Linked DNA regions of Homo sapiens. The protein of the gene in region 2 interacts with the protein of the main gene of each other region in a pairwise test. Each region holds a gene or a part of one and is shown on either strand. Other genes may lie near its edges.

Region 1 (2,574 bases), on a different chromosome or scaffold from region 2:
ACAACACTTTGGTGTTTGGTCTTTTTTTTGTTATATTTTGTTTTATTTGAAGGGGAAAACAAAATTGTTAATGGTGACTTTTAACTGCTGAAATTCAAAATTTGATTTTAGTTAGGTTTATGTCCGAGACTAAACTGTGCATGAACCGAAACAAAAAGCAAGTTCATACCGCTGCATTCTGTTCTCTTGTTCTGACGGTTAATTCACTGGACATCAAATTTTCTTTGCCCTAGTTTTCCCCAAAAGAAAACAAAAGCAAAAATAGTTATATTAATGTTGAAAGTGCTTTGAAGTCACTTGATAAAAGGTGCTATGAATAGCAACTTACTGTGTTACTACATTGCCTTTTTGGCATTGGTTGATTTATAATTTTGGTAAAGGATCCTAAAACCCTGTATTCTTTTTCTGTGCCCCATAATGACCAAAAAAGATAAAGAAAATGAGAGTAAGATCAAAAGATCAAACTAAAACATAAACAGTCTCCTTCCTGTCTGCTTTCTTACCTATCTGTTCACACTTTATCTCTTTCCCTTTCTCTCTCTCTCTCACATGCGCGCGCGCGCGCGCGCACACACACACACACACACACTTGCCCCAACACTGAGAAATAATCTTGCCAGAATTCTGGTTTTTATAGTTGTTGTAGTCCGTTTCTCTAAAAATAGTCCTGTTTTCATATGAATCTAAGAGAACATTACCGGAGAAAATAAAGTTACTCATTTATAGTTACTAATAATAAGTTAGTGATTAACTTACCACAATTGGATAAAATATAAAACTATTCTTCAGCACATTTATACCTAAATTAGTGAAGTCCATTTGTGAAGTTCATTTGGCATCTGCAGTTAAGAGTTAACCATGTATAAAATCCCTCCCAAAGAACATAATCATCGTTAGAACCAAATCCTCTTATAAAGAACAAATATAAAAAAGTTTTCTGTGGTGAAGCTATTTTATAGATTTGATTTCCGGAGTAGAATTTTACCTTAATTCACTTAAAGAAAATTAACCATTTTTTGGTCCAACTTCAGATATTTTCTTAATCCAGAAGCTGTGACTGTTCCCAGAAGAAACCTCTTATATCACATTTAAAACATAAAAAATAATTACACTTTCACTCATTCTAATGGGTAAATTGTTGAATTGTAATAAACAACTGTATATTTACAAACAGGTTTATAAGGTATTTGTCTATCAAATTAATAATAAAATAAAACTTACGGGGTCTGCAAGGAAAACTATGAAGGCCACTTAAAGTGGTTCAGGTATCCCTTTGTCTTGTAGGGCATAGCTGTTGGTTTAGCCAGGCTTTTACAGTATTTAATTTTAAAGTATCCTATAACTATCAACTTCCCAGGTTGAAGACGATGTGTTGAGTTTCCTACTGATTGATTGATTCCTGTCCTCCCCAGTGTTTCCGTCACTGGTTCACTAAAACAGTATTTATATAGCTCCACTGGCTCTAAAGCTCTTAGTCCTTCTAATATTTTGGATTTTACAAGTAAAAATGGAAAAAAAATAGAAAAGAGACAATCAAATGCCTGGAGCTTAAAACAAAGTATGTGCAACCTACCATCTCACTTGAAATTTAATAAAATAATAAGTAATTATGTAAATATAACATAGAGTTATAGATTTATATTTTGTTCATAACACATAGTGTAATATAAGTTGTATATTTTCATGTTTTTGGTTTTATGTTATCATTCATGCCACAATAAAAATAAAACAGGAGTTTATGTGCTCTTAAAAAAAAGATGTGGGTTGCCACCAACCTGTTTTTCGTTTTTGTTTTTTGTTTATTTTATTTTATTTTTTTGCATTCTCCTTTTTCAGTATTACTGCCATGCAAGGCACCAATAAAAACAGCAAATGTGTTCTTTACTTATTATACTGTGTTTCTTTTCACAATTATTGTTATGAGGGTGTAATTAGTTTTATTATGAAAAGAACAAAAGTATGGAAATTTAATTTTGTTTTTAATATAAATAATCCCTCTTATTGAAGTTGACTTTAAGAACTAAAGGTTTAATTTTTAGCTGTGGACATTCCCAGAAAGACAGTCAGGACTTGATATAATGCATTTCACTCAGACAGATCTAGCTTCACCATACTGTCAAAAGATACTGTTCTTATATGTAATTGATTCAACACAATTGAAAACCCAACAGTCTAAAGCACCTTTAATATTGTTGTTTTCCCTGGCTGGACACTATCCTTGGGTGGGGGATGGGGGGTTTCTATGCTTTAGAATTGTGCTTTATCCTTTCGTTTGTATAGAAGATTTATAAATTTCAGATCATGAAATTACTAAGAACTATGAATAATTTTCACCTCGCTGGTATCTCATTTTGAATAATGGATATTTCTGAATTGTTTAACATTAGCCTCTCAGTTCTACCTTAAACTTTTTTAGTGAATGTTAAAAACAAGAAGTCTCCTTTCCTTTCAATGGCCATTTTTGCTTGTCTCTTCCACCATAATATGTTTTTCTACCTTGATAGTTCTATATGTAATAGTTTCATTTAAGGGTGTTTGCTGGTTGGTTGGTTGGTTGGTTGGTTGGTTGGGTGG
Region 2 (3,600 bases):
ACAGTGTTGTTAATTTGTAAATTAAGAAGCTGGCTCCCCGGCTGTCTAGTAACTTAGGGATTAGCAAATGCAAAAGTATAGACTTTTATGGTAGTTTCTTATCCTTCCCTTTCCCAGATTTCTGTTCTTTGGTTGGTTACAAAGCCTCTTATCTCTTTTTGATTCAGTAAAGTGATGGGTAATAATGCGACACTGGAACAAATCCATCTCTTGTTGGAAATGGAAGCTGGGTTGGGACTTGTGCTGTGTCACCCTCAAGTATGAAGTGTAAACTCTTTCTTGGGCCACCAAAGTAACTAAACAAGAAATGCAACATTCTCCCATGAATACATTAGAGTTAATACTGTGGCCACATTTGGAAAATTAGCATAGCTCGTAAAAGCCAAATGCAGAAAATTAATTGTTAAGTATTCTATCACCACAGCTCTATCCTCCTCCGCCCACCCACCCTTGAGGAAGACAAGCCCAAAGTTAGTTGATGCTATGGAATCACAAGGATGTCCCAGTCCGTGATTTGCTGTAATTGAATCCATTTTAAATGTGGAGTCTGGATGCTGTTGGCATACCTTTATTTTGCTTGTTTTTCCCCCTGACAAACAAATCATTTACACATTTGCCCGAAGCCATAGAATGGGTAGAGGGGATGACTAAGATGTCATCACGTGCTCTCAATTTGGAGGCAGCATGATTTCCCCTGACATTTACATTTATGGGCTAGCTAATTTTTCCCTTCGTCTTAGTAAAGTTTATATTACAGAAGCGCCCAGCCAAGAACCTTATCCCACATCCAGATCTGTAAAATGATGTTCAGATTTTATAATCTGTGGACTGGATGCAATGACAGCTTGTGACTGTTTATTGCGTGGGACTGCCCCCAAATTCAAAGATGCTATTAATTTACCACAGACCTTATCTGCACGATTATCCTTCATAAATATGCTGACGCAATCCACTTTTTCTGGTTCAGAGAGGAGACCAAGGGAAACAGCTAACCCGGTTGCTAAAACCTTTTTCATTTTCCTTCCCATATGTGATTGTCTCCATGTCCAAGGGAGGCTGGGCTAATCATGAACCTGGTCTCCCATTTTTAAAGAGAAGATAAATTATGCTCAGAAGAGATAGCGGTTCATTTCTCACCGACCACTTGATTCCCTTGTCTTACATTAAATGTTCTATTTCTGTTATCTCTAATGCTGTTTGTTTTCCATATAGAAGGTTCAGTTACACCATTACATTTCCAAAACTTTTCTTAAAAAACTCATTTTTAAAAAACGAAGCAACTTACCCATTTATATATGGTCCCCCTCCCCCCAAGAAACACACATAGTTTTGACAAAGGTACCTTTTTCAAAGATGAAACAAAGTATGTCTTTCCATACATAGATATGTGTGTGTGTGTGTGTGTGTGTGTGTGTATATGTATGTATATATAGATTTTTTTAAAGCTAAGTGCTTTCAGTTGAGAGGGGAGGCCCGAAAGGAAAAAACCTAGAGAGATGACGGGGGAGATGGGTTTTTTTTAGTATTATTTTAATGTAACTTTCTTTTGCTAATCCGCTCCTCTCTCTGTTCTCTAGGACATATGAGCCCTACCACCTGCACCCTGAGGAAACACAAGACCAATCGGAAGCCGCGCACGCCCTTTACCACATCCCAGCTCCTCGCCCTGGAGCGCAAGTTCCGTCAGAAACAGTACCTCTCCATTGCAGAGCGTGCAGAGTTCTCCAGCTCTCTGAACCTCACAGAGACCCAGGTCAAAATCTGGTTCCAGAACCGAAGGGCCAAGGCGAAAAGACTGCAGGAGGCAGAACTGGAAAAGCTGAAAATGGCTGCAAAACCTATGCTGCCCTCCAGCTTCAGTCTCCCTTTCCCCATCAGCTCGCCCCTGCAGGCAGCGTCCATATATGGAGCATCCTACCCGTTCCATAGACCTGTGCTTCCCATCCCGCCTGTGGGACTCTATGCCACGCCAGTGGGATATGGCATGTACCACCTGTCCTAAGGAAGACCAGATCAATAGACTCCATGATGGATGCTTGTTTCAAAGGGTTTCCTCTCCCTCTCCACGAAGGCAGTACCAGCCAGTACTCCTGCTCTGCTAACCCTGCGTGCACCACCCTAAGCGGCTAGGCTGACAGGGCCACACGACATAGCTGAAATTTGTTCTGTAGGCGGAGGCACCAAGCCCTGTTTTCTTGGTGTAATCTTCCAGATGCCCCCTTTTCCTTTCACAAAGATTGGCTCTGATGGTTTTTATGTATAAATATATATATATAATAAAATATAATACATTTTTATACAGCAGACGTAAAAATTCAAATTATTTTAAAAGGCAAAATTTATATACATATGTGCTTTTTTTCTATATCTCACCTTCCCAAAAGACACTGTGTAAGTCCATTTGTTGTATTTTCTTAAAGAGGGAGACAAATTATTTGCAAAATGTGCTAAAGTCAATGATTTTTACGGGATTATTGACTTCTGCTTATGGAAAACAAAGAAACAGACACAATGCACACAGAAAATATTAGATATGGAGAGATTATTCAAAGTGAAGGGGACACATCATATTTCTGCATTTTACTTGCATTAAAAGAAACCTCTTTATATACTACAGTTGTTCCTATCTCTCCCCCGCCCCCCACCGCCCCACCACACACATATTTTTAAAGTTTTTCCTTTTTTAAGAATATTTTTGTAAGACCAATACCTGGGATGAGAAGAATCCTGAGACTGCCTGGAGGTGAGGTAGAAAATTAGAAATACTTCCTAATTCTTCTCAAGGCTGTTGGTAACTTTATTTCAGATAATTGGAGAGTAAAATGTTAAAACCTGTTGAGAGGAATTGATGGTTTCTGAGAAATACTAGGTACATTCATCCTCACAGATTGCAAAGGTGATTTGGGTGGGGGTTTAGTAATTTTCTGCTTAAAAAATGAGTATCTTGTAACCATTACCTATATGCTAAATATTCTTGAACAATTAGTAGATCCAGAAAGAAAAAAAAATATGCTTTCTCTGTGTGTGTACCTGTTGTATGTCCTAAACTTATTAGAAAATTTTATATACTTTTTTACATGTTGGGGGGCAGAAGGTAAAGCCATGTTTTGACTTGGTGAAAATGGGATTGTCAAACAGCCCATTAAGTTCCCTGGTATTTCACCTTCCTGTCCATCTGTCCCCTCCCTCCGGTATACCTTTATCCCTTTGAAAGGGTGCTTGTACAATTTGATATATTTTATTGAAGAGTTATCTCTTATTCTGAATTAAATTAAGCATTTGTTTTATTGCAGTAAAGTTTGTCCAAACTCACAATTATTTTAAGAGGTGTTCTCTGTTCTTAGCTGGGCTTAGCTCGAAAGTGCTACCCACATGAGGGGGAAGCTGGTCTTTTTTAATATTTTAATGTAAGTCAACCAAGAGTTGTGGCCAGATTCAGCCATGTTGGGGTGATTGGTGGTGGTGGGGAGTGAACTGAAACTACTGAAATACTTTGAAATGTTTCCTCTGGCAGCTTGTTACTTATGGAAAAGAGGTGGAATTGCTGCGAGGAGTTTTTCAGAAAAAGTACAGTGAAAGATAAGCTTTAAATAAGTGGTG

What was found. The genes of interacting proteins can lie anywhere in the genome.
Region 1: the proteins of MSX2 (region 2) and SOX5 interact in binary tests that used the Homo sapiens proteins (3 or more experiments, as listed by UniProt).

What each region holds. Positions count from the first base shown.
Region 1 is NC_000012.12:23,528,814-23,531,387, reverse strand, and holds the end of SOX5 (transcription factor SOX-5), read left to right. Parts: 3' UTR 1-1,884; downstream 1,885-2,574.
Region 2 is NC_000005.10:174,727,582-174,731,181, forward strand, and holds the end of MSX2 (homeobox protein MSX-2), read left to right. Parts: intron 1-1,577; coding exon 1,578-2,002; 3' UTR 2,003-3,315; downstream 3,316-3,600. UniProt on the Homo sapiens protein: Acts as a transcriptional regulator in bone development. Represses the ALPL promoter activity and antagonizes the stimulatory effect of DLX5 on ALPL expression during osteoblast differentiation. Probable morphogenetic role.